Linked DNA regions of Homo sapiens: region 2 is linked to region 1. Evidence: fine-mapped expression QTL. A gene starts in region 1. The other region holds a variant in brackets. All regions are shown on one strand. Distances are between the middles of the regions.

Region 1 (15,817 bases):
ATAAAGTGAAGGGGAACATCACACTCTGGGGACTGTTGTGGGGTGGGGGGAGGGGGGAGGGATAGCATTGGGAGATACACCTAAGGCTAGATGACGAGTTAGTGGGTGCAGTGCACCAGCATGGCACATGTATACATATGTAACTAACCTGCACACTGTGCACATGTACCCTAAAACTTAAAGTATAATAATAATAAATTAAAAAAAAAAGTTCCACACAAAAAGCTGCCATCTACTGGACATACTGATTAGGTGGACAGGCTGAAAAGGGCCCCAGCTGCCCAAGTGGAGTCTTTCAAATTCTGAGAAGGCAGGGGCCATCTATCCCACTGCCATGTTTCAGGATTTTCTGAAGTAGTGCCAAGAGGTGAGGAAGGGGAATTTCTGCTAAAGCCTTACATCTGACCCCTAATGGCCAAGCAGCGATGGTGGTAGCAGCTCCTTCAGAACAGGGATCTGTATGGTAAGGCTTTTTAGTCCCACACTCTTCCTAATAGTAGCTTATGTGCAAACTGACTAGCATAATGCCTGACACTTCTGTAGATCCATAAATTACACTTATTAACTGTCATTGAAGGATAAGAGGAAAGACAGGGGAAAAGACAAATTTTGCCTCAGACATAGGATTTTAAATCTTGAAACAACAAAAAGTATAGAAAGACAGAGAGACGTTTTCCTTACATCAATTCAAGCCAATATCCCATGACACACACACACACATGCACACATGCATGCACATATAAATCTGGGCCTGCAACATGTGATAGCTTTTGTCATGTATCATATGACCTGTTTGTCAACAGCTTAGTTGGTCACAAATGGTGTCCAGGATTATTCAAGGGACATATGGGGGTCATACATTCAGACTAATCCTGGGAATAGTTTATTGGTGATGGCTTCCAAATGAGCATCTAAAGTCTGTGAAAAGATTAAATGGAAATCCTCCAACCAAAGCAGGAAATGAAGATTTATGGGAATTATTTTGTACTCCAACTACCCAAAGAGCATTCTATTAGCAAGTTATTGCCAGGCTAATGCAAAAGCTGTTATCTATGACAGCAGCAGCTCTTAGAACTTTAGCAAGAGCAACTGTTTACTTCATCAGAATAGCCAAGAAAATTCTCGTTATATTTTTGTTGACTGGGCCAATGTTAGAAGGTCTGGCTTACTTTAAGGTGTTCAGATTCATCCAAAGAGCTTAGAAACTTGGGCCAAAATCTGGTGTAAGTGCTATTTTCCTGACATTTCATCCATTTGCTAACCCAGTTCTATCATCTATTACCCTATGTTGTTTTTGTCAGTTTCATACAGTCCCAAACTCTGTCTTCTAATTATCTTAATTTTGGCTAAAGATGTGTCAATGTTTGTCAAATTGGACTGATTTACCATCCAGCAGGGATGGTAAATAGCTTTCATCTCATATAGACTCTGATTGCTAGTGGCTACCTAGAATATTGCTGAGTAGGATTTTCAAACCTTCTCCAAGTTCAGTAGGAAAGAATTCTATGATTGATTAGAAATGTCTGTCATGGGTAAGGGAGAGGGTAATGGTAATATGTATGCCACGTCTGTGCCATCTCTGAAAGGCCATTTACCACCCCACCTTTTTCTCCTTAAGCAATCCCTGAAGTCCTGCCCCTTGGATATTTCATCCAGTGCCTTGACATCGTGACGATTCTTGTGATCCCCTCCTTTTTTCGAGAGGAATTTTCCCTTCTCCTAATATGTGGTATTTTATTTAAATAAAAAAGTTAATGTGTTATTTTCTGATAAAATATGAAAATAAAATATGCCAATTAAAAGCTTAGAGAATATAGAAAAGACTAGAGCAAAGAATAAAATGACCCATAAATCCACTACCTACAGATAATTTCTAACACATTTGTTTGTTGTACTTTTCTATAAATTTTTACAGTCGTGAGAATAAAGCTGGGGGGTGTGTGCTTTTTAAATTAAATTATAATCATTTGCCGGCGCTTCAAAATGTTTTTGTAAATGCTTTTGGTGGCACATACAGCTGTTCCATGATTTATTTAACCCTTCTCCTACGGTTGACTATGTAGTCAATGTTAAGTTTTTTGCTGTCATAAATAACATGACTGACATCTTATGTAGAGTCCTTTCAAAAGTAATAATGACCAGGGCAAAGTGGTCTAACAGAATGATTTGAGTTCTTTGTGGAATTCAATATAGATTACAGTGAGCCCTGGAATATCTATCCATCCACAAAACAGTCAAGAAAGCTCCCCAAAGCAGATCTAAAGTTTACTAAAATGGATTAATGTCAATTAAGGCTGTATTTCACTGTGTTTGCTGCACATCCTTGTAGCTAACAAGGAAAGCCATTTATTGTTAACAAGTTAAAATGTTAAAAATAACATCCAAATAGTAAGTCTCATATAGAGAGGATTAATTTATCTTTCATTAATTATTGAAGGTTTGCTGTTGTTAAAACATGGATTAAAAACTTGCTAAATGTTACCTGGGCTAGACACCAAGAGAAGAGACAGATTAAAAGATAGCCATCTTTGGGCAGAGAGTCATGAAATGTACCCTAGATCATCCCTATCCCTCATTTTCTTCATGGTAACTTTTCCTGTATGTAACTTCATGGTAACATACAGGTTCATACCTTTCTGTACTAACTCCCTCAGTCTTGTCGCATGGTGCCTACATGGGCCAGATGTAAAAGTTCATGAAGCTATACATGGAAGATTTGTGCATTTTGCTACCATAAAAGGATCTTACAAAGGAAGGCCCTACATTAATGTAAATTAAAAAAAAAACAGCAATAAGTATAAAGCTACTAGTTACTATGTAGTTATAATAATATAAACTGTAGCTGCCACGATTTAAAGCACCTGGACCCACCACTAGACTGTAAATAATGTGAGGGCAGAGACCATGCCTTGTGCTTCACTGTGACTCTGACCTGAGTACCAGGTGCGCTCAGCTGCAGCAGGGGATAGGCTCGATGAGGACAGTGAAGGGAAGGCCACGCCATTCATGGCATACTCTCAGAGAAAGCACCCCTTGCCAAAATCGCAGGAGTCAGAATAGAGCATCCTAAACAAAAAGTATGCATTTGCCCTCTGAGGACATTAATCATCTGGCTTACAAAGTGAACCTATCTAATGTACTTTTTTTCCCTATTAACTGGTATCATTAAGCTAATAAAATTTATGTCTGTTAGAAACATTCTGCCAGATGTCCAGTTATTTGAAGAGGACTAAGACAAAGAATCCATGACATTTTCAATTCTCATATGTGATCACTGGTAATTTACAGCTCATCCTTTACTTCCTATTCTTGTGGCAGCATGTGTTGCTCTGCCCCACTGACTTCAAAGACTTTCTTTTCGTCTTTGGGGCATTTCCTCTCGGATCATTACATCCACTTCAGCCCATGACCAGATCTTCACCTCATGGTTCCTCTCCAACTTGCTTCTATGAGCCTGGGGATGGAGTCCTGGTTTCTGTCACCCAATCCAGAGACTTCTAGGGGAACTGTAACGTGTCCACCTTCTAAAGCCACTTGCGATGGCCAGGGCCTCCTATGCTGGGTGCTTGCCCTTCTGTTCTGGCTAGTCTGCACAGCCCCTGCTATGTTTTACACCCCAATTTCCAGCAATGGTCTTTAGAACTGCAACAAGTAGCTTATTTGCCAAAGGATAAACAAGCAAGAGATCATTTTAGAGATCTTTTTAGCTTTGTTAATAATACAAGTTGTGGCACCAAGAAGATGCAGTCAGAGATATGGGTTAGATGCAAGGCTTACTTGAGTCTACCATCAGAACAATTCTAAAGAACATAGAGGAGCTCCCAAATATAACCCCTAGTGTACAATGCCGATAATAGGGTACGGTGAGGTTAAGAAACGTGGCCTCAGGACAAAGCCCTCATAATCTTCTAGTATTGCATGTCTAGAGCTAAGTGAAGTACATCTATTTGTAGAATTGCTATTGTTCTCTCTTAGGTAATACACTCAAAGTTCATGGGTCAAGCATGGATCCCTTACTGGAATGAGGATTCTGAACTACAAATCAGTTAACTGTACATGTGACTTATCATAATGAATTTCTAGACCTGGAATGCTGGGAATCATAGTGACAGCAGAGACATCCACCAAGGGAGAGTGGGGGTATGCTTGGGTACTTGCCAGGGCTGTCTTCCTAAAGCAGGCAGTTGGGCCACAGGGTTCTCTCCAGCCTGCCATGTTAGAGTGACAGATATCCACTGACTGAGCTTCAAGGGCACACACACTACCGCCTGTGTTCTTAACATTTTCCCAGGCTCCATACTATGCATCCACCATCAACACTTCTCAATGAACTGTAGTAATTCCCAATGGGAGGGGGATGGGAAAGAGTAGATGAGCAGGCTCACACAGTCCTCTCCCCAGAGAATCTAGAAAAGGGATATCTGTGTAATTATTAGTGCAGGCACTCCCTCTGCTGCTGCCCTCTCTGCCTAGTCCATTCACATGTTAATCTACACACATCTAGAGACATATGCTACACCCAGTACCTTCTTTCAAGCAGACTACAGAGTGCATGGGTGTGTGTGCTCAGGTGGATGTGGCAGAATCTGGAGGGAGGCTGGCTGAAGGTATATGCTGCAGACAGAGTAGTAAGAGAGTGAGCAGGTAAGAAAGAGAAGAAGCAATCAGAAAGCAACCCTGAGGTGCCAAGGAAGTAGGACACCATGGAACACATTCAAAACAATATGACACTTTGCTTAATGAGTTTGTTTCTATTTTTTTAAATACAAGGTTTCACTCTGTTGCTCAGGCTGGAGTGCAGTGGCACCATCACGGCTCACTGCAGCCTCAACCTCCTGGGTTCAAGTGATTTTCCTGCTTCAGCCTCCTGAGTAGCTGGGACCAGAGGCGTGTGTGCTACCATGCCCAGGTAATTTTCTTATTTTTTGTAGAGATATGGTCTCACGATGTTGCCCAGGCTGGTCTCAAATTCCTGGGCTCAAGCAGTCCTCCCGTCTTGGCCTCCCAAAGTGCTGGGATTACAGGCATGAGCCACTGAGCCCAGGCTCCTTTATGACTTTTGTTAATAGCTTTGTGAATCTAACCAAATGGGATTGACATAGACTGGCATTAATACTGATGACAATCACCTTTTCCCAAGTGGAGAGCACCTCTGATTCTGGTTTACTACAGAGGCTCTGGCTTCTTCAAATATCAACATGATTTGTAAAGTGATTAAATTGTTTAAAAATATGCTGAATTAAATATTTATGGTCGCAGAAAAGCAGAAAGCACCAAGAAGCCTCAATTTATTTTCTAAATTTCATTTCTAAAAAGTTCAACAATATTTGTACAATTTTAGCGATTTGAAGTTTACTAAAATAGATTGTCACTAAGGACTGTAAATATCATGATGTGACCATTTTTGCAGACTGTCCTTAGAGTTAACAAGGAAGAAATTTAAACAGCAAGCACCATTAACTACAAGATAAAAGGCTTTTAAAAAATCCAAATTACAATTCCCATAGGGAGAGGGTTAATGTACCTCTTCATCAATTGTTAAAGGTATATTATTATTAAATGGATTAAAAACTTGCCAAATCTTACTTGGCCAGGCACCAGGAGGTTGGAATAATTAAAAGATAATAATCCTTAATAACCTGGAGCCATGAAATGTAACCTAGCTCATACCTACCCCTCACTCTTTTCATTGTAACCATTTCCATACACTGTGAGTTCACAGCCTCTTTTCTCCCCCAACGCACTCTGTTTTCACATCTCAGTACTTCTCTATTTTGCCTTCTTCCCTGTAGTTTGCCTGGGAATTATGTGAGAGCACTGGATGCTCTTCTACCTCCAGCAGGAAATTGCTGCTGGGGGAACTTCCTACCAGGGATAAGTTTTCCCTGTGTGGAAGGGGGTTGGGAGGGGTGTGTGTCTTGCAGGCCGCCTAGAATAGATTCCAGACCTTGGGCCACACAGCCTGGTAAGTCAACCAACAGCCTCCTCACACCTCATATTTGCATTCCAGTTCACTGAGTGATTTCACACACTGGCTGGCAATTCTTGAGCCTGCTGGAAAACCAACCAGGGATTCACCTCATCCATCACTGGTCTGCAACTGCCTTTTGAGGGCCACAGCAGGGGATGGAGAAATGTTTCTTAACCAGGGCTACATCAGCCAGTGAAGGGGGATACGCTCTCAAATGCAAACCCTGGAAAACCAGATGGATAAGAAGCAGACCTGGAGTTCAAGATGGGCTCCAAAGGTAAGAGAGGTAGGTTCAGATCCTGCTTCAGAGCTAACTAGTTGTATGACCCTGGGCAAGTTACCTAATCTCCTTAAACCTGTTTCTTCCTCTGTAAAATCGGGATAATAAAACCTACATTACAGGGTTTGGGAGCTTTAAAAGAAGTAACTGCAGGTAACGTACACAGCCCAGTGTGTGGTAAACAAAAATGTACTTGGTAAATGTTAAACCATTGTGCTTGGAAGTGGTGTGGGTTAATGGTCAAGAGCCTTGGGTCCGGAGCCAGACTGTTTGGGTTCAAATCCCACCCTTAGCATTTAATAGCTGAGAGCATTGGGTAACCTTCGCTGACTCAATTTATCTGTCATTAAAATGGAATTTTATTACAACATAGCAGATATTTAATAAATATTAGCTACTTTTATTTCATTGGCAGTAAAAACAGTTGATTGAGTTTCCACCTCAATCAACAACGTAGTAGTGAATTAAATGAGAATTCAGTACAATGCGTATTTTTTAAAAATTGTGAAGACCTTGTATGCATTTATGACTTTTTTGGGCAGAGTCAAGCTGCGATGCTAAGGGTGTGGTTAAACTGTAATATGAAGGAAAAAATTCAAACAGGGAGCATAAACCACCCACCAGGGAGCTATTTCTTTTGTAATGTGCATTCCATTTCTTCTCCCTCATGCTTTTTAATTCCTTCCATATTTCCTGCCATAATTATCAAATGTTTAGTTTCTGACCTCACTTTCCTGGAGACTGGAGCCCGGGGAATTTAGAATTGTTTATTTTCTGTCCATAAACCTTTGAGTTAATGGAGCGGCTTCTGAGCAAAGAGTTTGTTGGTTTGTTTGTAGTGTCTCAGGAAGGTCGTTAGAGTTGAAAAAATTGGTACAAAAAAACAAGCGCTGAAATGCTTTAACTGGAAACTCGAGCCCCCAAAGAGCAGAGCAATGGATCTTCTCTTACACTTGCGCAACGTTACAGGGAACACTTGGGAAAAGGCCGTTACATTGCCCAGATGATAACACAAAACCCGAGGACACTTCACAAAGAAGAAAATACATTTCAGAGAATCATGATCTCACTTTAAAAGAGAGAAAGGAAAATTAATTTTGCCCCAAAAGAAGAATCCCGATTCCTCTGCCCCCGCCCCCAGGAGACAGACTTGGGAGGGAAAAGTCCCCAACTACTCTCAGTCTCCTCTGAAGTGAAGGACGGAACTGAGGCGCCTTTTTGAACTCGCTGCTGCTCCAGTCGCCGCCTCGTCCCCGTCGGCCCAGCCCGTCCCCTCTCCTCCTCCCCGCTCTCCCTCCATGTTAGCCGCGGCGGGGCTCCCGCTTACGGCCCGAACTACTTTTCCTGCTTTAAAGATTTAAGTTTCGTAAGCAGCATTACTGCCCCAGCTCCACCCCAGCACACCCCAAGGACCGAAACTCCCAGCGCCACCCCGGGAGAGCATCCCCAGGACGCGCGCCCACCCGCCCAGCGCGCAGACCCAAGAGGCCCCGGGGACCGAGTTCGGACTCCTCGGCCCCTCGCCTACCTCGGCGCGGACCCAGGCGACCGCCACCAGCGCGAGCGCGAGCGCGAGCCAGCGTTTCCACATCTGCGGAAGAGAGAAGAGAGCGAGTCTGAAGGCGCCGGGCCCCGCGCTGACCTGGGAAACTTGCTCGGGTCCCGCAGGCTCGCTCCGGCCGCCCAAGCACCCCCGGCCGCCCGAAGAGTCCGGCCTCCGCGCCGTGCGCCCTGCGCTCACCGTGGTCTGGTCCAGGTCTCCTGGGGGCGCGGGGCAGGACGGCGGCAGCGAGCTGTAAGCGGAGGTGGGAGCTCCGCCGATCGCCAGCCTCGGAGGAAATGCGACCTCCCCTCGCCGCCCCTTAAGACCTCTCCTTCCCCGCCTGCCTGCCCCCCCAGCTCCTCCCCATTCTCCTCCCCCTTCTGCTGCAGCGGCCCCCGCGGCTCCCGCTCCCCCTCCTTCCGACCCCTGCTCCGGGGAGCCCGCGGGAGTCCTGGCGCCGCCGAACCCCTCTCTCCGCACGGTCCCTCGTCCGGCGCCCCTTCGGCCCCCTGGACGTGGAGCGGAGGCAGAGGGGGTGTCCCGTGGGTCCCTGCCACAAAGGGGTAGGGGGAAGGGAAACCCCACCCCGGGAGGGGCTGCTGGCTGGCGGCGGCCCGGGCGGGCTGCGGCGGTGGCCAGGTGGGCGGTGCCGTGGGGGGCCCGGGAAGGTCCGGGACTGGAACCTGGAGGAAAAGACGTCCCGCGGCCTAGGAAGCGGAGCCGCCCCCCATGGCTGAAGGGGGAGGCCCAGGGAGGCAGAGGAGACCCCGCATCCCGGGGTCACGGCAGCAGGGCAGCGGGGCACCGGGAAGTGGGCGCAGGGCCGGGAAGACCGGCCGGCGTGGGGAAGGCTGCTGTGGGTTCTACAGTGCATTGTCCCGGGTGAGGTGGCGGCCGCCCTGCTCTGCTGGGAAGATCCTGAGTCCAGCGTTTGCCGGCAGCCTCATCCCCTCCTTCCCTCGGGCCGGGGAGCGGTGTCCCCCTCCTCTCTTCCGCCCACTCACTCATCACCTGTGTCCCTCCTCCCATCCCTGTCATCCCAAGTAGCCTCTGTGTTCAGGATTGCCATCTTCACCACCTTCTTCCCAGCCCTTGGCCTTCGAAAGTGTGCTACCTCTTTGACAGGGTTAACTCCCTAAAATGCTCCTAATTAAGGCGCCTTTCCTGCCATAACTAGTAAGGAGAGCAGATCCACTTAGCAACTCAGATTTCACATGCCCAAGACTAAGCCTCACTTCCCCCAGCTTCAGGGCCTGCTTATCTACCTCTTTCAGGGTGGTTGCCTTCAAACCTATCTCCTTTTCTCAGAGCCGGCTTGTACCCATAGCCTGGCAGTTTAGCCGCTGAGATCTCATATGCATCCCCTCGCCTCCGTTCACATGTCCACTTTCCTAGGCCAGACCTTCATCCTCCCTCACTCAGAAATTCTGGAAACCTCCTTTCGTTGTCCTCTGACTCCAGGCTCTCCCCTGTAGTCTCCACTGCAATCCATTGTCATATTCTTTCCCTTATTTTAAACATTGTCTTCCTCGTGTTCATGTTCTTCCTCTACTCAGAAACTTCAGCGTTCTTCTACCCACATCAAATCCAAACTCTGCCTTTCTTATAAGCCCTGCATTACTGGGCCCACCCTGTCCATCTAACTTCTCTTCAACTACATCAGCATACTTCCTCCGCTCAAAGCAGGCCCATCTCCTCGTTGTCCTCTGAACTTGTCATACTCACTCTGCTGCCAAGGTTTGTTGAGTGCCCACTGTTGTGGCTTTAGGGGGCTTCAAGATAATACCCATGGTCCCCATGTAAGTTCAGAATCCACTGAGATAGCAACAGGAGTCAGACTTATGGAGAGCAAAATGTCAGCTTTGTCTCTGCTAAAGGCTGGAATGGCAGCCATGGCTTTAGATCTGCAGGGACAGCGGGCCCAGAATTGAACATGTCCACTCAGTCACAAGCAGAGCTGGAAAACCTGCCTGTGTAAAAACTAAACTGCATGGAAAAGCAGAAAATATGTGCCTCCTGGGACATGCCTGCTCCCCAAACTTGAGGGGGTAGAGTGACACATCCCCAGTTCTTTCAAACTCTCCAGTCAGACAACTTACTCCTGCTCCCTTGTTATGGTAATAAGATTAGGGAATAGATGTTCCGCACCAGATACTCTGTCTTGGTCACTGTGCAAGGATTGAAGGGAACTATTGTGGATAAAGTTCTGCCCTCGAATAACGCACAATACATTGCATCCCTTGCAGATCCACTGCACCCTCTCAGAATCTGGTATCATCTTTCCTCCCTTCCTCTTATCTACTAAAATGCTTGGGTTTGTTTGTTTGTTTTGTTTTCAGGAACCACGTCAAGTTTGCTTCCTTCATATCTTTTCTGACAACAGCTTGGCATGGTAGAAGGCACAGGAGGTTTGAGGTCAAACCAATCTGGCTTTCCATCCTATCACTGCCATTTACTAGCTGCATGGCCTGACTTGCATCAAATAATAAGCCCTCTGAACCTAGGTTTCTGCCTCTGACAAATGGCAGTGATAATGCCTTGCAGGGAGTTGTGAAATTTAAGCAGATGCATATAAAAAGTGCCTGGCAGGTAGTAGACCTCTGTATGTGATAGCCATTATTATTTCATGATCGGCTTTGCATCTAAATTGTAGTTGGTACTATACACCAGGTACTATGAAAGCCATTCAACATCTCTTATTTTATTTAATTTTCACAATAGATAGAAAGGAGGCTGGGCACGGTGGCCCATGCCTTGTAATCCCAGCACTTTGGGAGGCCAAGGCAGGCGGATCACTTGAGGCCGGGAGTTCGAGACCAGCTTAGCCAACATGATTAAACCCCGTCTCCACTAAAAATACAAAAATTAGATGGGTATGGTGGTGGGCACCTGTGGTGCCAGCTACTTGGGAGGCTGAGGCACCAGAATTGCTTGAACCCGGGAGGCAGAAGTTGCAGTGAGCCGAGATTGTGCCACTGCACTCCTGCCTGGGCAATAGAGAGAGACTCCATCTCAAAAAAATAATAACAATAAAAAATAAAAATTTAAAAAATACAGTAAATGGAAAGGTCTTTTTTATTGCTTCCGTTTTCCAAATAAAACTGAAGCTCAGGAAGATTTAGATACTTTCCCAAGTTTATACTGTTGGCTACACAGCCTTACAACTTGGGGCATTATATTGCAGACTGCTATACAATGTTTAACACTTGTTCTCATAGTTATTCTTGATTCTCCAGCTAGTTTTAAGTTGCTTAGAGCAAAAACAATGTTTTTCATATCTTTATCCTCTCTACATTTGGAACACAATTAATGGATTTGAGTATATCAAAATGAAATGAAAGATTCCTGTTCAACTGAGGGCACCATAGACAAAATGATAGAAGGAGATATAAATGTCTAAAACTGACATGTAACTCATAACACACACACATACACACACCCTGCAAATCAATCAGAAAAAGAAAACCCAATAAAAAAGGGCAATAGGTATGAATAGGCAATTCCCAAAAGGGGAACCCCAAATGGACAATAAATATAGAAAAGATACTCAACATCACTACTATTATTTAAATTGCACAACAACCATTTGAAATCAGTATTATTTTATTATCTCCAATATACAGATGAAGAAACACACACAGAGTTTAAGTAGTTTGTCCAAAGTTATACAGTAAATTATAAATGTCACTTTACACTCATCACAGTGGCAAAAATCAGACAGTTGGACAATATCAGTGTTAGCATGTGACTAGTGCAATCTTTGTGGTGTACTGTAGCAATTAAAAGCATGGGTTTATGAGACAGACTGCCTTGGTACAAAATTGCCTTGGTAGTAAATCTTAGCTTTACTACTTATTATGTAACCTTGGGCAAGTTACTTAACCCCTTGCATCTCAGTTGCCTCATCTGTAAAATCGTGATAATTGTACTGATTTCATAGAGCTATTGTGTAGATTAAATGTATCAATATGTAAAGTACTTAGAATAGTGTCTGGTACACAGTAAGCATATAAATAAGATGTATTACTACGGAAATAATTCACTAGAGAGCTCTTACAGGTACTGATGATAAAACTGTGCTGTGGCGTATGGTTAACTCTACAATAAATAAAGCAAAAGACAAAAATAAACTATGCAGTGGAGAAAATATTTTGAAATGAGATATTTGGAAATGTCTTATCATTAGGCTATTTTGTTATCCAAAACAATAAAAGTGTGGCACCATAAAAACTCTCGTGTATGCACATTTTAAAAACTTACACAAAATTTTCTAACCTGTTTAAAAATCTTCAGACAGAATTCCAGTGGCTTATTTACTCATTTGTTGAAAATATAAAAATATAATAACTTGGGACCAGCATGGTGGCTCACACCTGTAATCCCAGCACTTTTGGAGGCTGAGGTGGGATGATCACTTGAGCCCAGGGGTTCGAGACTAGCCTGGGCAAATGTGGCAAAACCCCGTCTCTATAAAAAATATAAAAATCAGCTGGGTGTTGTGGCATACCCCTGTATTCCCAGTTACGGGGGGAGTAGGGGGCCAAGGTGGGAAGATCACTTGATCCTGGGAGGTGGAGGCTGCAGTGACCCATGATTGCACCACTTTACTCCAACCTCCGTGACAGAGAGAGACCCTGCCTCAAAACAGACAAACAAACAAAAACTAACCAACCAGCCAAACAAACAAAAAACCTTTCAATTAATTTTGATTTCCAGAGCAGATGGGAATTTATGAGCCAAATTTCAACAAAAAAACCTTCGCATGAATGGTTTATAGGACTGGAAAATGAGTAATTTGGTGGGTGAGCCAATGGTACACATCTTCCATCCAGATCTGTAGAGTGTCTTAATGTCACGATATTCAGTACACATTGATTCCTTTCGCATCCAGCTTGCTTTCGCCATGCTTCAGGTAACAATACCCACCTTCGCTCTACAGTACCATTCTTCTTCCACTCCTCAAACATGCAAATGGCCTAGGATAAGTCAGTCACCACATTTCAACCCCTTGACCATAGTGATTACTTTAAGAGTAGGAATTTGACCAAAGTCAGGCCAATACAGCCATATTTGTGGGTGCTTTCATCTTCCAGGGCTGCCATAAAAGTATATCACAGACTGGGTGGCTTAAACAACAGGAACTTATTTTCTCACAGTTCTGGAGGCCAGAATAACAAGACCAAGGTGCCGGCAGCATTGATTTCTTTTGAGATCTCTCTCCTTGGCAGGCAGATGACTGCCTCCTCCCTGTGTCCTCATATGGCTCTTACCTGGTGTCTCTCCCTCTGCTTGCAAAGACATGAGTCCTATCTAATGTGCACTCTACCTTTATGACCTTATTTAACCTTAATTACTTCTTTAAAGGCCATATCTCCGAACAGTCACATTGGGGGTTCGGGCTTCAGCATGAATTTAGAAGGAACTCAGTTCAGCTCATAACACTGAGTTAGCTTTTTCAGCTCTGACAGCTATAATACCAAATATCAAAATAAACTGGGCTTAGAATTGGACCTTCAGCTCTCTGTCACAAAATGTTAAGCAAATATTTTCTTTTTCTTTTCTTTATTGAGACAGGGTCTCACTCTGTTACCCAGGATGGAGTGTAATGGTGTCATCATGGCTCACTGCAACCTCGACATCCTAGGCTCAAGCAATGTTCCTGCCTCAGCCTCCTGGGTAGCTGGAACTACAAGTGCATGCCACCATGCTGGCTAATTTTGTGTATTTTTTGTAGTGACAGGGTGTCCCCATGTTGCTCAGGCTGGTCTCAAACTACTGGGCTCAAGCAATCTGCCTGCCTTGGCCTCCCAAAGTGCTGGGATTACAGATGTGAGCCACCATGCCCAGTCTAGCAAATATATTCTAAATGAAGTAATGACAACACCATCACTAAATGTACTACTATTTTTTTTCAATGAGATCATAAAGGTGTTTTCACCATTGATAAGTAAAATAAAGAATGTTGATTATTTTAGGTCGGGTGCGGTGGCTCACGCTTGTAATCCCAGCACTTTCAGAGCTGAGGCAGGTGGATCACTTGAGGCCAGGAGTTCGAGACTAGCCTGGCCAACATGGTGAAACCTCACCTCTACTACAAATACAGAAAATTAGCTGGGTGTGGTGGTGTGCCCCTGTAATTCCAGCTACTTGGGAGGCTGAGGCACGAGGCAAGGGGCAGAGGTTGCAGTGAGCTGAGATCATGCCACTGCACTCCAGCAGGGGCAACAGAGACTCCATCTCAAAAAAAAAAAAAAAAAAAAGCATGTTGATTATTTTATCTTTAACTCATTTCATATTTTACATGTTTTATAATGTATATATTAGCCTCACTGTTATTGGTGGTAGTATGTAACTGCAAAGTTTGCAAACTATGGCTACAGAAAATCGAATCTCACACTGAGGCCAAAAGAACACTTCAAGAGTTGAGTACAGTGTTTATTATGGTTAATTAATCATGTTCAGGGTGACATTTGTGTAATCATTGAGAGCATCTGTGACAAGATGGTTTCATCAGCAACTTGGGGAAATAAAGTACTTATTAAATATTTGTGTTTATTGACATATCCAAAGTAATGCATAATTTGAATGTATGCCTATTTTGCCCTGTCTAAAGGTACTAAACTCACATGATCTCCTTCAAATTAATTTGGAAAATTCTGCAAGTTGGTAGTATACGTTTTTGTATTATATTTATAAAAGTATGATTTATGATAATCCATCTATTCATTATAAGCTTGGCAGACCTATTCATTTGGATAAATAAATGGATTTTTTTTTTCTTTTTGAGACGGAGTCTTGCTCTGTCACCCAGGCTAGAGTGCAGTGGTGCCATCTCGGCTCACTGCAAGCTCCGCCTCCTGGGTTCATGCCATTCTCCTGCCTCAGCCTACCAAGTAACTGGGACTACAGGTGCCTGCCACCATGCCTGGCTAATTTTTTTGTATTTTTAGTAGAGACAGGGTTTCACCATGTTAGCCAGGATGGTCTCGATCTCCTGACCTTGTGATCCATCCGCCTCAGCCTCCCAAAGAATAAATGGATTTTATAAAAATTTTAATGTCATAATATTCAGTACACACTGATTCCTTTCACACCCAGCATGCTTTCCCCACACTTCAGGTAACAGCATCCACCTTCCCTCTAGAGTATCATTCTTCTTCCACTTTTCAACCATGCAAATGGCCTAGGATAAGCCAATCACTACATTTCATCCTCTTGACCATAGTGATTACTTTGAATAGGAATTCAACAGAAGTCAGACCAGTAGAGTGAATGAAATCCAATTCCAAGACTTGTTTACTCATTAGGGAGGCTGACTCTCTTTTCTGCTGGCCTGGGTACTGGATAGTGTGACTCTGAAGCTGCAGGGGGCCACCACCTGGGCCTGAGATACTGCCAATCCTGAAGAGGCAGCACCAGGAGATGGAGTCCAGTGACATCATCAGGGCCTCAAATCAAGCTGTACCTGATATAGCTCTAGACTTTTAGGTTTGTTACCTGCTTCTTTTTGCTCAAGCCTCTTAGGTTGGGTCTTTTAAATCACATTTGAAAAAAACCTTAAATGATCATCAAGTCGTAAATATAATTACAGGGTGTTTAAAACAATAAGATAGCATAAACAAATGCAATAGTCCTTTAAGCTTAATATTTGCAAAGATTATGAAACAGCAGAGCTGGGAAAGGGAAGTGATTTTCCCAAACACTCATGAAAGAGCAAATGTTCTGTCTACTGCACCTTGCTACTTCCTCCACTGCCCAGCCTGCTGCAGACATGGGGATGTGTGTTATTTAAGACACCCTTAAAACAAGTGACTGAACCAATTCATGCTAGCCTGGGCCAGGAAGGAACTTACTGGCTGATGAGGAGTCTACTGAGGTGGCTCATGGGGCTGAAGGAAGAACTGCAGAATCTAAGGTCTTGGGGACTCAAATGGGACTTGTGATAGACTAAAAAGCATACCCCTACCAAAATAGAGTCACTTCCTGGAACTTGTAAGTGTTATCTAATGTGGCAAAAGAGCAA
Region 2 (15,817 bases), 27 kb after region 1:
GGCCTAAAAAGGGAAGGAACCCTCAGCTCCAGGAACTCCCCACCCCTTTCCTGGAAAACTCATGAATAATCCATCCCTCGTTTAGCATATAATCAAGAGATAACCATAAGTGTACTCAGTCAAACAGCCCATGCCACTGCTTTGCCTATGGAGTGCCCATCCTTTTATTCCTTTACTTTGAATAATCTTGCTTTCACTTTACTCTGTTGGCTCACACTTGAATTCCTTCCTGCACAAAGCCAAGAACCCATGTGGCTCCCAGGCCGAACTCCAATTGTGAGGTCCACCCTGTGACAAAAATCACAGTATAAGCAGGGTTGGTTCCTTCTGAGGGCTGTGAGGGAGGAATCTGTTTCAGGCCTCCATCCTTGGCTTATAAATGGCAATCTTCTTCCTGTGTCTCCATGTTCCATTTCTACCTGTCTCCAAATTTCCCCTTTTCATAAGGACACCAGTCATATTAGATTAGTGCTCACCCAAAAAACCTCACTTCAACTAGATCACCTCTGGAAAGACCCTATGTCTAAATAAGATTACAGTTTGAGGTACTGGGGTTTAGGACTTTAACATATAAATATTGGGGAGTGAATGGGCATAATTCAATCCGTAACATCCACCTTCAGCCCGTAATGAACAGAAATTAGAGAAAACTGTGCTTAAATTAACCACTTCTAGGTTGGTGTACTTGGGCAAGTAGCTTAATCTCTCAAAGCCTCCATTTTAATCCTTTATAAAATGGATATGGTAATTCTTATTTCAAAGATTAGATAGTACTTTTTTTTAATTCCAAATTCTTCTCTTTCTCCTTTTTTATTTTCCAGGAGAAGGTAGAACACGTTGCTCCTCCTCTTGCCCTGCTCACTCTCTTATTCTTACTCTATTTAGATTAAAAAGAAAATAAAGTTTGTTTGCTCATAATTTACTTTGAGCCTTGACTGACAAGGGCTGTACTGATCTCTGGAAATCCATACCTCCACTCCCAGCTCTGCAACCTCTCATTCTAATTTAAGTGCTATCATCAGGGCTTCCTCCCTGCCTGCCTTTGCTCTGTAACTCATTTCTCTCTTCCCTTTGGCACAACCCAGGCGTGGGCTCTATTAGAAACACCTCTTTGCCAAGCAAATCCTGGCCAAGTTTCTCATTGCTAACTGCACTCCTGCCTCTCCATGGAGAGTGCTTTTCCACACACCACGTTGTTTAGAAAGCCTTGTTCCTGGAAGCTGACAAGCTGTGAGTTGCTTAAAATGTAGTAATTTACCTGTGAATAACAAAACTAAATATAGTCATGCAATATACAGTATTTGGAAACAGAAGAGCATTGTTTAAACAAGATTTTGAATAGTTCCCTCCTTAGGAATATGGTAAATGGCCTCAGCAAAATCTGTATTTTATATTTTGAAAAGAAATAGGATTTTTTCTCAAATTTTAATGTGAATAGGAATTACCTGGGCATCTTGTTAAATGCAGCTTCTGATTCAAAAGTTCTGGGGTAGAGCAAAAGATTGGTCTGTGCATCTAAAATTTTCCCAGGTGATGTTGCTATATCTGCCCACCAACAACACTTTGAATAGCAGAGCTTCAGAGATCATAGGACAGAGCTTCTCAATCCTGACTACACATTAGAATCATCGGGAGTTCTTTTAACAAATATCAATGCCTGGTTTCCAACATCCAGAGGTTCTGATTTAATTAATCTGTGATCTGAGTCTTACACTCAGGTTACTGTCTTTTTTTAAAGTGATTCTAATATGCAGCCCAGGTGGAGAATCATTGCTCTAGTCCATTGCTCTTTAACTTTAATATGTATAGAATAGCCTGAGGATCTTGTTAAAATGCATACCCTGATTCAATAGCTCTGGGCCAGAGCCCAAGATTCTGCATTTTTAAAATGCTTTTAGGTCATACTCAGGCTGCTGGTTAACGGACCACATTTTTGAGTAGGAATGGTCTAATTCGGCATTTCTCAACCTTGACACTATTGACATTTGGGGCCAGATAATTCTTTGTTGTAGAGGGGCTGTTCTGTGCATGCGCTGGCCTCAACCCACCTAGATGCCAGTAGTAACCTCCTACTACCACCACCACATGAGATAACCAAATATGTCTCCAGACATTGTCAGATATCCCCAGGGTGAGGGGTGCAAAATCACTACTATCACCACCAACGTCACCTGCTGTGCTGGCTTGATTCATCCTTCTCATTTTACTGGAAATAGGTCCAAAAAGTCCAGTGTTACAATGTCTCCATCTTTAAAGATCTCAGAACCTCTAGGTATTTGAAAGCTGACAGATTACAAAGCTGACAGCTGCCTTAACAGGGTGTGGTAGATAGAAGAATGCACCCCCCACCCCCAGAGAGATATCTATATCCATGTTCTAATTTCCCAAACCTGTGAATGTGTTACTTTACATGGCAAAAGATGCTTTGCAGATATGACTAAGTAAAGGATCTTGAGATGGGAAAATTATTCTGGATTATCCAGATTGGCCCAAGGGTCCTCATAAGAGGGAGACAGGGTGTCTGAATAAGAGGAAGAGAAGTGACAAAGCAGAGGTCAGAGAACTAGTGATTAGAAGATGCTATGCTGTTAGTTTTGAAGATGGTGGGAGGGGCCACAAGCCGAAGAATGCAGGCAGCTTCTAGGAGCTGAAAAGGTCAGGGAATGGATCCTCCCGTAGAGCCTCCAGAAGAAATACAGCCCTGATGACACATTGGTTATAGCCCAGTGAAACCCATTTCTGTAAGAGAATAAATTTATGTGTTAAGTCAATAAGTATGTGGTAAATTGCCACTGCAGCAATAAATTTACACATAGGGGAATGTGATAAGAAGATAAACGATCTTATGTTGTGGGGAAGCAGAAGTAAGGTTGTACTTGGGTAGAATAGAATATAGGGAATGGGAAGGTGATTAAGGCAACTGAACAGACCCTGAGTTGAAAGGGAGAACTGATAATGCTGTTCAAAATTAAGAGTAATGAATGGAAAATTCCATGGGGACCAAGGCAGGACTAGTCGGAGCAGATGGGCAAGGTGGGAAGATTATGTGGGAGAGCATTGGCTGCATGTGTGGGGCCAGAGAGCATCAGTGTACTGCTTCCATGTTGCGGCCCAACATGCTTGGACAGGGCTTTGTGGTCCTTGGTGTTTGCTGCCTCTTAGAATAATCTGAGAGGAGTGTAAAACTCCTGCAGCTCAGGCTGCACCCGTACCAACAAAGTCAGAATCTCTGGGGACATAGTCATTTTTAAAACTTTGTGTGATTCTAATGTGAAGCCACATTTGAGAACCAGTGCTTAAGAAGGTAAACAGTGAGGGACAGACCAATAAATGCATGAACTCAAATTAACTTGTTTCTAGAATAACGGTTCTTTGGCACTTTTGAGGTGGCTACTTTCTTGCAGGGAGTGATGAAGGTGGGAAACCTGGTACCACCTGATGTAGCTGCAGGTGTTGGAGTGAGGATGAGCCCCAGGTTGTATGTAGTGGTGTCCAACGACAAGGCAGGGGGCCCCTCAGCAGTAGGGCAGGGGAATGGGGAAGAGAAGCTGGGAATATTGGAGGCCAGGGCTGAGAATGAGGCTACTTATCTAAATCTTGTCACCCAGAAAAATGTGAGGAATTCATACATGTGCTGGACTGAGGTCAACATCAAGGAAGAAGGGGGAAAGTCTCCAGAAAGCCATGAACCACCATATCCTTTAGCTGATTAACTTTCACTGGTAGTTCAGGGTGTATCTTAGATATGCCTCTTTCAGGAAGCCTTTTCTAACCCGCAAGCCTGAGTTAGATCCTCCCTTTTGAAGCCTTTTCAAATAGCCTGAACTCTATTCACTAGATGCCAGTAGCACTCCCCAATTTGTGACAACCAAAGATGTCTCCAGACTTTGTCAGGTGTTTCCTGGGGACAAGATCACTACCGGTTGAGAACCACTGGTCTAGAGTAATATAACGTGTGCACATCAGACACGGTCAGTTCTGTAGAGTCAAGTAAGGGTTCCTTCTTGTTGCCTCAGGACCTTATTTTTCTTTCATTCTCTTTCTCCAACTCAGACACTCACTTGGGGGTTGGAAGTTAATGATGTGGCTTCTACAGAAGCAGTGATTATGTCTATGCTGCTTTTTTTTTTTTAAAGTCATATTCTCAGTCCTGTAGAACTGGGACTCTTTCCATGGCTTATTCCATGCAGGGAAAAATGCCTCCTTCCTGAGTGGGAGCCCCTCCCTGAGGTGCACCACAGCTCCTGTAAAATCTTGAGGATGTGGGGAGTAGCTTGGACCCTTCAGAGAGGGTTGGTTTGCTTAGTGGTGGGATGGTTCTGAGGAACCATCTCATAGCTGGTACAAGTGCCAAATAAGAGACTTCTTCTGAATCTCCACACATTAACCCTTTTATTTTGTGCTTGGAAAATATGTGCTGAGCTAACCACACAACAATAGCTCCAGACAGGCCAATGAGTGATGTTTCTCAAGATAGATTTAATCAAATGCTGCACATAATTTGAAGTCTTAAAATGAATTCCTTCTGCTTTCCAGTCTATGGGAGCATGATAAATAAAGCCATGAGAGGAACTCAGAGCGGGTGAATGTATGTCATCCCATAACAATGCTGGGAGAATGTTTGGAAATCCTCCCTTCAGGGTTCAAGTTGGGATGCAGGAAAGGCTGGTTTCTCTCCCTATATCCCTTCCTGAATCTCCCAGAATATCTGCCATGCCTAGAAAAACCTTCTTTAGTTCATTGTGAACAAGAAAGGCAGCTCATCTAAGAAAACATTGCCTCTTCTGTGTTTAGGGTACTCAGCATCTCATTTTTCACTATGCCTCATGATGAAATACTCATTATAATATGAAAGGGGCCACAGTTTGAAAGTAGGAAACATGGAAGGGGCTGGTGGTCCCTAGGAAGGTGATGAAAGTGAGTAAATGTGCACTTGATCCTGTCATCACTGAACATTTATGGGGCTTCCACCATGTTCCAGACTCTGTGCTAAGTACAGGAGATGTAGGTAAAAAAGATAAAGTTTGGAATTACCAGTTGGTGGAAGGAGGCAAAAAAGTAAATAGCTGACTGCCAGCCAGAGTGAGAAGCTTAATGACAAGTAAGGGGTGCTGTGGGAACACATAGGGGTAACCTCAGTGAGATGGGGTCAGGGAGCATGTCCCAAAGGAAGTATCTTATAAGCAGATGAAAGCTATCCAGGTGAAGGACCTGGATGATGGGATGGGTGGGAATGGGAATTTCTGGCTAAGGGCAATTTAGAAGCCCAGAGGGAAGAGAGAAGCCATGAACAGGAAGCAATTTAGTCTGGCTGGAGTAGACAAGGTCAAGTGGGATGTGCATGGCGGAATCCATGTAAGGAAGGTGGCTGTTTCGTTTCATGAAGACCAGGAGCCAGCTTGAGGCCAGGTCCGGGAACACAGATATCCCCACCATTGAAGCCCACCTTAGCCTCTGCAAGAAATCCCCTGGGCTTTCTGCTGGCTCCAAATCCCGGGATCAGAAAGAAGATGCAAATCAGGATCAGTAAGAAGCTAAGAGGCCTACAGTGAGGTTTTGTGTCTTGGCAGGTGGTGGAGTTGAATTTCCTGAACTCTCTGTGTGGGCATAGATGTGTTTAGTCACACTGTGGCTTGAGGGCTGATTTGAACCTACCTCAAGCAGGTGCTCTGTGGGAATAGTTAGGTGGGGGTTGGCAGGATAACTCATTTTATTAAACAAAAAAAAAAGGCCGGGGGGTGGGGCTTCTTCCTATCAAAACAGGGGAAGGAATGAATAAATTATTGATGCTAATTAGAGATAGGCAATGACAAACCTGGAGTTTCTGCCAATCATCAGCATATAAGTGGATAGTGCCAGCCTAAAGGTGCAGACTCAGGATGCCCCACCTTGATGCCAGGTGTCACCAGCTCTTCTCCAGTGTGGCTGAGCCCATGATCTCACTAGGCCCCTGAAGAGATCCCCACTCGGCACTCTAAGGTCAGACTGGGCCACCTTCCTGAGGTGCGCCTGCTCCTGCACAGCTGGGTCTCACACAGGCCTGCTCTCCATTCCTCAGGATCCCACCTGTCATCCACTGCACAGGACTCCTAATAGAATTCCATCAAATTTCAGAGCCAGATGGAGCTTGCGGAGTGTATTATTCAAGTTCTTCATTTAACAGCTGAGGAAACACAATTTACAGCTGAAAGCATTGGTAGAAGCCATTATCTGCTATGCGGGCTGAGTCACAGAGGAAGCCAGGCAGCAGCAAGAGAGGCCATGAAGCAGAGAGATGCTCAGAAAGGAGCAGAGAAGAGCAATTGTGAAAGACGATCCCCAGGTTGCCTGGATCCATTTGCTTTTGTTTTCGTTTTTGCTTTTGTTTTTTGATACAGGGTCTCACTCTGTCACCCAGGCTGGAGTGCAGTGGTGTAATTATAGCTCAATGCAGATTTGACCTCCCAGGTTTAAGCCATCTCCTGCCTCAGCCTTCTGAGTAGCTGGGGCTACATGTGCATGCCATTACACCCAGCTAATTTTGTTTATTTTTTGTAGAGACAGGGTCTCACTATGTTGCCCAGGCTCATCTCAAACTCCTGGGTTCAAGTCATCCTCCCACCTCAGCCTCCCAAAGTGCTGGGATTACAAGGGATCCATTTTTTTTTGAGGTCCAGCTGCATCCTTGACCTCAGGCTCTATCAGACTCCCCTGTACACTATTTACAAATTCCCTTTTTTGCTTAGGAGGTAGCTAAAGTCAGTTGCTGTTACTTGTATACCAGTTACTTAACAGATACAATGAATTAGAATTCAGGCATGTAAAGACACCTGTAAGAGAAAGGGTGGCTCTCAAGCTGAAATTGTGAGCATTGGTGTATTAGTTTCCGTTGGCTGCTGTAAAAAATGACCACAAATGGGGTGGTTAAAAAATGGAAGTTTACTCTTTCACAGTTCTGGAGGCCAGAAGTCTGCAATCCGTATCACCAGGCCTGAATCAGGATGTCAGCAGGGCTGTGCTCCCTTCAGGTCATTCTCCTTTCAGAAGCTGGAGGGGGACCAGCCTGACCAACATGGAGAAACCTCGTGTCTACTAAAAATACAAAATTAGCTGGGCATGGTGGTGCATGCCTGTAATCCCAGCTACTCAGGAGGCTGAGGCAGGAGAATTGCCTGAACCTGGGAGGCAGAAGTTGTGGTGAGCCGAGATCGTGCCATTGCACTCCAGCCTGGGCAACAAGAGAGAAACTCTGTCTCCAAAAAAAAAAAAAAGAAGAAGAAACTCGAGGGGGCAATTTGTTCCTTGCCCCTTCCAGCCTCTGGTGGCTGCTGCCATCCCTTTGCTTGTGACTGTATCACTCTAATCTCTGCCTCTGTGTTCATGCTGCCTTCTCATCTTCTGTCTGTGGCTCTAATAAAAAGGGTTTAATCAAGAAAACATGCCAGGCACAGTGGCTTACACTTGTAATCCTAGCACTTTGGGAGGCTGAGACAGGAGGATTGCTTGAGCCCAGGAATTCAAGATCAGCCTGGGCAACGTGGCAAAACCCGTGCATGGTGGTGCAAACTGTAGTCCCAGCTACACGGGAGGCAGAAGTGGGAGGATTGCTTGAGTCCAGAAGGCAAAGATTGCAGAGAGCCGAGATCACGCCAATTCACTCCAACCTTGGCAACAAGAGAAAGACCCTGTCTCAAAACAAAATAAAACAAAACAAAAGCCACACTAGTTATTTTTTCAGAAATAACTTAAGAAAGTGGTTAAACAGGTATTGGAAGACTGTCCAGGTAAAGTGTGAAAACGTAATTGCAAGAAGCAGCCACCATTCCTAGGGCTAGGGGAAATAAGGGAAGAGGCAGCGTGATCTGGATCTAGAAGCTTAGAAGAGAGGCCCTGCTGAGCTGAAGCCAGGCTGGGGGCTCTTTGTCACTGCTGGTGCCTCTGAACTCAGAGGAGGGACCCACGTAGCTGAAACTCAGATCTCTGAGGAGGGGGGACAGCTGGCTAGTGCTGGTGTCTCCAAGGGAACACTATGAGGTCGGCTCACAAGTATGGAAAAGATGGAAACCAGAACCAGTTTTTATCAACAAGGTGAAGAACTTTCCTAGGCAACACTGGCAACAACAAAAAGCAAAGCAGTCCTGAGAAGCTCCTGCTGCCTTCCAGGCATCTCCCTTATTACAAAGGTACAGATGGTCGTCCTTCAAAAGGTCCCTGCTGGACATCTCTCCTCCAAGCCATTACCAATCACCCTAGAATGTGAGAAAGCTGATTTCTACCATCTGGTATATACCACCACTTTTTAAAATTGCCTCCCCTTCTCTCTTAGAGGGACACTTGTGTTGCATTTAGGACCATATGGATAATCCAGGAT[A/G]ATCTTCCCATTCATCTCAAGGTCTTTGATGTAATCACACCTGCAAAGACCTTTTTTTCGTCCAACAAGGTAACATTCACAGGTTCTAGGATAAGAATGTAGACATATTTTGGGGGGCCATTATTCAGGCTACCGCTATTGAGATATTTAAAAAGCAAAGTTTCAATTAAAAAGTGGGTTAGCTGTTAGTGGAAGAATAAAAAGTTAGAACCAGTAAGTGGGTCAAATAAAAGGCAGTCGGAACTAAAGAACACAAGGATTTGGCTCTCAAGGTTAGTAGATCCGCTTGGAAGAGGTGGGTTCATCAGGTTATCATGGTCCACCAGCCACGATCACTCAGCTAGCATCTCTTGTTCTGATTTCATGAAAATTTCTGATGATTTGGCTGCTTATATAGATTCACTTACAGTGACAGAATATGCTGATCTGTACATCAAAGTATCTAGTTTATTAAATCATTTTATTATTACAAATTTAGAAATCAGAATTCTGGTTTTCTGTTCATTCATTTCTACAAGTTTGAGTGACACATATTAGGATCTGAGATGAGGACTGTCCATCCTACAAGTTCAGAAATATAATTTTCTGGCACGCTAATAGTGAATCCATTCACTGTTGAAGGGGGAAATCAAACTGAGTTTTATTCTCTTGGTCATGATTCCAAATTCCTAATGAAGATGTCTAATGGGCCAAACTCAAACCAATTTCCCATCCTGGAACAATCAACTGTGGCTAGGGAATGATAGGGAATGAGGCCCCTTTGAATGTACTGCTTTTATTTAAGATTTATTTGGGAGGGATGGGCCAGTTTCCTTATAAGTTGGAGAATATGGCAAGCAAATCTGCAGTCTGTGTTATAATTGAACTTTCAGAAAGCATTCGACTTCCAAGTGTCACTCATACCTCTACTAAATCTTCTTCATAATCTTGTATTTGTGTGTGTCTTCAGGACTCATAAAACGGTAACTTAAACTAGTTAACATAAAACGGTCTGTTAACATAAGTTATGTTAACATAAAAAGTTAACATAAAATGGTAACTTAAAACTTAAAAAGCAACTTAAAAAGTTGCTCCTCCTTTCAACATATTCTTCTTGCTTCTATTAAATTAATCTTTTTTTCTTTTTTTTTTTCTTTTTTTTTTTTTTGAGACTGAGTGAGTCTTGCTCTTGCTGCCCAGGCTGGAGTGCAATGACACGATCTCGGCTCACTGCAAGCTCCTTGGGGGGCCTCCCGGGCTCAAGCAATTCTCCTGCTCCAGCCTCCCAAGTAGCTGGGGTTACAGACGCGCGCCACCATCACCACGTCCAGCTAATTTTTGTATTTTTAGTAGAGACAAGGTTTCACCATGTTGGCCAGGCTGGTCTTGAACTCCTGACCTCGTGATCTGCCTGCCTTGGCCTCCCAAAGTGCTGGGAATTACAGGCATGAGCCACTGTGCCTGGCACTAAATTAATCTTTATAAAATACCTTTGATTTATAATATATGATGACTATGACTATGACTTATATACAATCTCTACATTTTCTTTTCTTTTTTTTTTCTGAGACAGAGTCTCGCTCTGTCGCCCAGGCTGGAGTGCAGCGGCATGATCTCGGCTCACTGCAAGCTCCCGGGTTCATGCCATTCTCCTGCCTCAGCCTCCTGAGTAGCTGGGACTACAGGCGCCAGCCACCACACCTGGCTAATTTTGTTTTTGTATTTTTAGTAGAGATAGGGTTTCACCATATTAGCCAGGATGGTCTCCATCTCCTGACCTCATGATCCGCCCGCCTCAGCTTCCCAAAGTGCTGGGATTACAGGCGTGAGCCACCGCACCCAGCCTACCATCTCTATGTTTTCAGTCCTATATATGTATCTCCTGTATTTCATTATTTAATATTTATTCTTTAAATTGATTCACTATATAATCAAGTATATTAATTTAAAAAATAAGTTCTCTATCATAAATGGAAAAAAGATATTATTTTTTTTTTCTTTTGAGATGGGGTCTCACTCTGTCACCCAGGCTGGAGTGTATGCCACCACACCCAGCTACTTTTGTATTTTTAGGAGAGACAGGGTTTCACCATGTTGGCCAGGCTGGTCTCAAACTCCCGACCTCAAATGATCCACCTGCCTTAGCTTCCCAAATTGCTGGGATTACAGGCATGAACCACCATGCCTGGTCCACTTTTTAAAAATAGAAGGTAATCAAACAAATAAATATAGCAGGATGTTAGAATGAGGTTTCCAACCACATTTTTGACTGAGGCTTCAATAAAGTAGGTATATTACCAAAGTTCATGTGAGACAGGCTCCTCACATGTGAATTTACGAAGGAATTTGTGCAGAGCTTGTTCTACGATTTTTGGATATCTTAGCTCAATCAAAGATATTTAAAATAAGTCAGAATGTGAAGAGAGAGGAGGATTTGTGGAAGACCTTTTAGGAGGGACCTGGTGCTATGCTAGAGACCCAAGAGAGGGGGTACTGCCTTCTCCTTAAACGTAGTGCAATAATAAAAACAAACAAACAAAAAAAGAAACCTAGTGCAAGAAGCTTCCTTGGAACTACAAGGAGAGCTATGGAAGGTGCTCTCTGCACTTAGGGGATATAGGACAATGGCTCCTGACTCCCACCCAAGAAAATGTAGAAGTTACTGTGTTAGTCTTGACCTGCCGTCCTAATTGAGTGACCTGGAGGAATTCTTGCTTTCTTCTAGCAAGAAGAAGCCAGAGGGGAATGCTGTTTTTTAGAGGCTTTCAAAGAAGTTATCAATGACCACTTGAACTAGACATCATTAGGTACCCTGCACCATGGAATGATGGAAATCTCCATGAAAGTGCCCAGGCAGGTAGCCACGTTCGACTTTCTGCTTGACCCAGAGAGCTCTCAGCCACTAGCCAGCAAGTACTGTCCTTTGACCTATACCTCTTGTCCCTCCAGCCTGCCCCTTTCTGTCCCTGAGAGAAGTCAAACTTCAGCTAACAAGTGAAGGAGGAAGTGAGTGGGGAGAGCAGAAACCAACCACACTCCCTTTCTGGAAAACAGGCAGCTGTCAAGTAGAAGCCTTGCCTAGGGAACAGGAAGAAAATGGAAGAGCTGACTAATATCTAGGACTTGATATTCAAACTACCAAATTAAGACTGAGTTTGCACATAAAAGTCTGTAAGACTGTCTTTTATCTAAGCATTAGTAAAATATATATACACACACACACACACACACACACACACACACACACACATATATATATATATACACACACACACACATATATACCAGGCTTGCTGGGTTATTTTCCAGTGGTAGAAAGAAAGCTTTCCCCACTGGATAAAGTTTAGAGTTGACACAGGAAACAGAAAACGAAGTTGGATTTTGATTGTGTCACAGTCACACTTGTTCAATGTACTGCTTCTATAAACATGATGAAAACAAAAAAGTTATACTTTTAAAAGGTAAAATTTTTAAAACCATGACAATCAAGTAATAAATATTTATAAGATGCATACAAAAAATAGCTGCATGATTTAAACATGTGAAGAACTCCTTGATCTAGGCTTAAGATTGGCCAGTTGGGTGACTAATGCTGGCATTAAACCTAGATGCTTCCTTAATTCAGGATGAGTGGTGCCCCTGCTTGGTGATGTGATACAGATGGGGCACCTTGGCAGTCCACCGCCATTTGGATGCAATCTTAATATGGGAATGATAGCCCATCTAGACTACCAGGGGTGAAACGATGGGAGCAGTCATTCTTACCATCCCTGCTTCCAGAAAGTCATACTGAGGCTGGGCGCAGTGGCTCACGCCTGTAATCCCAGCACTTTGGGAGGCCAAGGTGGGTGGATCACTTGAGGTCAGGAGTTCAAGACCAGCCTGGCCAACATGGTGAAACCCTGTCTCTACTAAAAATACAAATATTAGCCGGGTGTGGTGGCGGGCGCCTCTAGTCCATTACTTGGGAGGCTGAGGCAGGAGAATTGCTTGAACCTGGGAGTCGGAGGTTGCAGTGAGCTGAGATCGCACCACTGCACTCCAGCTTGGGTGACACAGCGAGACTGTCTCCAAAAAAATAAATAAATAAAAATAAAAGTCATGCTGAAATGTTCAGTATATGAATGTCTGAAACATTCATGACAGAGTCTGTTAATTTATATGGTCTGTGTAACCATGTTTCTACCTACTGTGCCCAATGTATTTTTTCTGTAATATACATTAAAATAATTATTGAGTCAAAAAAAGGTTCAGCAATATGTGTCTGACATCATCGTGCATATTATACTCTCCCAGCATCCTCAGGCCTTGTTTTACCTAGCAGATGCTGTCTCTCACTGAGCTCAGCCCACTGCCTCTTTGGAGGGTAAAGCCTCTATGGTTTTCCATTCTTGTCATGTTCTCTGGGTTCCAATCCTCTGAACAGATTCAAATCTGCTTTTCCTTCAGGATTTCTCTATATCTCCTTGCAGTTTTTTTTTTTTTTTGGAGACAGTCTTGCTCTGTTGCCCAGGCCAGAGTGAAGTGGCATGATGTCGGCTCACTGCAGCCTCCACCTCCCAGATTCAAGCGATTCTCATGCCTCAGCCTCCTGAGTAGCTGGGACCACAGGTGCCCACCACCACGCCTGGCTAATTTTTGTATTTTTGTTAGAGATGGGGTTTCACTATGTTGGCCTGGCTGATCTCAAACTCCTGACCTCAGGTGATCCACCCACCTCGGCCTCCCAAAGTGCTGGGATTATAGGTGTGAGCCACTGCACTTGGCCTCCTTTCAGTTTTATCAATTTTTGCTTTACATAGTTTGCAGCTCTGTTGTTTGGTACAAGCACATGTAGGATTGCTATATGTCATTGGTAGATTGACTCTTTTATTACATAGTATCCTTCTCTGGTAATTTTCTTTGTTCTGAAGTCTACTTTATGAATATTGTTAATATTAAGTCTATGTGATTGATATGACCATTTCTGCTTTCCTTTGATTAATGTTTGCATGGTATATCTTTTTCCATCCTTTTACTTTCAACCTGCCTATATCATTATATTTAAAGCAAGTTTTTTGCACAGAGCATTTAGTTGGATCATGTTTTTAAAACCAATCTACCAATCTCTTTTAGTTAATGCATTTAGACTATTTGCATTTAATGTAATTGTTCATCTGTTAGGGTCTAATTATTTATTTTTATTTACTTATTGTTAATGAACATAAGCTTTATTACATCAAATAATAAATACATATAAATCTGCAAGTAGTTTTAGTCATTTTGAAATATGTTTTGATGAACTTACAGCAAACATAGAACTAAAATCTACATACAATCTTAGTAAAAAATAGTTAAGTTTAGTTGGTTACTCCTTATTCTGTATTTATAACTTGTGCATCTTTAATTTCAAAGCATTGATAGTGATGCAATACTTAAGCAAAAAAGAACTTATAGAGAATGTATACTGTATGGCAAACCAGGGACTGGCTACTAAGTAAAGAGTGCTGTCAGTATTCATCAAAAATAAAATTCATAGAGGTGTATTACTTTATGGAATGGAACAAAAAACAATTTAGGTGCATGAATGTATTCAAAAGAGAAGATTAATGTGCAACACTGGTATCTTGGAGGCAAGCAACAGTTTGCTGTAGGACAAAAAACTTTTACCTGCATCTTTTAAATCAATGCTTTAAAAAATCTGAGTAGCTCTAACTACTTAAAATGCAAATCCTAATCAACTGTAAGATCTTTGCTAGTTTGAGAACCTACTGAGCCACGGGAAAGAAACCAGGAAGAAAAACCAAATGATTACCATTTTGAAAACATGTTTCATCTGGACAGGGGAGATGAACTGTAACTTCCTATCTTGTAAAAAGATGGAATACCTCGCAAAACTATGAAGGTGGTTAGAATCTGGCATTCCATTCTGTTTTAACCAAGCACTCCCAAACTAGTCCTTTAGCATGAGTGATAACTTGTTTTGGTCTCTTCATTGTGCTCTTGCTCCCTGTACAGGTGGATCTGATCACTCCCTCAGCTCTTGGATGATAGCCAGCAGTTTAGCACATTTGCTTTGGGGTCACTTGGCTGTTTCCAGTTCCCTGGGTGTAGCCTAGGGATGGTGGCCTATAGTCACTCAGCAGCTGGTGGTACTGTGAGAATAATACCATATGGGTAGAAGGTGACATGGAAGGTGACAAGCTCTCAGCTGAGTTGAGGGAGGTGGTAGGCATTTTCAAGGTCAAGTTTAGTTTGTATGACATTCTTTCATCTCCATTCCCAGTAGCAGATTTTTATACACACACACACACACACACACACACACACACACACACACAGACACACACACACACAGACTGGTGCTGAAAACTGTGGCTGTCTTCCAGAAGCCCAGAGAATTTTGGGCTTTGGGATTAGAGGCTAAAAACCCTAGATATGATCAAGAGTGATCTGTTCCCTGTTGTGCACACAGCATATCAGGACACTTTGGCTTGTAGCTTCCTAATACACGTTCTTATCCATCTGTCCTCCAGGAAAGATACAATAGGACAGATAGACACACAGATGTACACATGCACACACACACACACTCCAACATATTTGAACAAGGCTAATAGAAAAATGAAATGAATTGAATATAGGAAAGGGTACAAAAATAATTTATTAGAAGGAATGGTGTGGGACAAAGCTAGCATTTATTGATCACCCACTATGTGTCAGATATCCCATTATTTCATTTAATTATTTTCTTTTTTCATGGACAAATAAAAATTGTATACATTTATGGTATAAAACATATTTTGAAGTATGTACATTGTGAAAGGGCTAAGTCAAGCTAATTAACCTACATGTTACCTCATGTACTTATCTTTTATTTGTGGTGAGAACACTTAAAATCTACTCTATTAGCATTTTTCAAGTATACAATACATTGGTCTTAAATTTAGTCACCATGTTGTAAAATAGATCTCAAATCATTTAATTTTTCAAGTTGGTATTATTACTCTCCTTTTACAAATAAGTAAACTGAGGCTCAGGGAGATTAAATAGTTTGTCTAATGTCACGTCTAATAACTGGCAGAGCCCAAATTCAAACTTTAATTTGTTGGATTTGAAAACCTTTGGCTTTGCTGTCTGTCTCTTATGGAAGAAGGTGGAGCTTGGGGGAACTGGCATTAGGAGATTAGGTAATAGAGATGGTTGGTTAAGTCCATGAGGTGGCCACAGAGGATGGATGTGGCTGGATTTCACTGTCTTCCTCCACCCCTCCTATTCTCATAGTTGTGATATACATTGCCTCAGAGTTGCAGCTTTCTTTCTTCCCAGGATGAATTTTAAAAAAAAATTTAATTAACAAAAAATACTTTTAATAACCAAATAGTTATAGGGTACCATGTGATATTTTGATCTATGTTTTATACACATTTGAGAAAGATTAATGAAGCTAATTAATATATCTACCTCACCAACTCATAATTTTTTGTTGGGAGATTAATAGTGAAGAGA

Evidence for each region. PIP is the estimated chance that this variant, and not a neighbour inherited with it, causes the effect.
Region 2: its variant is fine-mapped to the expression of FSTL1 in whole blood (TOPMed, PIP above 0.99).

Annotation. Positions count from the first base shown.
Region 1 is chr3:120,442,905-120,458,721 of GRCh38, forward strand. FSTL1 (follistatin like 1) reads right to left here and starts at 8,088. Exons shown (of 11, transcript NM_007085.5): 1 at 7,993-8,088; 2 at 7,780-7,842. The coding sequence starts at 7,842. LOC124900546 (a long non-coding RNA gene) reads right to left here and starts at 7,750. Exons shown (of 2, transcript XR_007096030.1): 1 at 1-7,750.
Region 2 is chr3:120,469,954-120,485,770 of GRCh38, forward strand. It overlaps the pseudogene CDK2AP1P1. Among named protein-coding and RNA genes, the nearest start is that of FSTL1, 27 kb to the left of the region's middle. RefSeq lists an enhancer at 1-776. The variant A/G (reference allele first, on the strand shown) is at 8,351.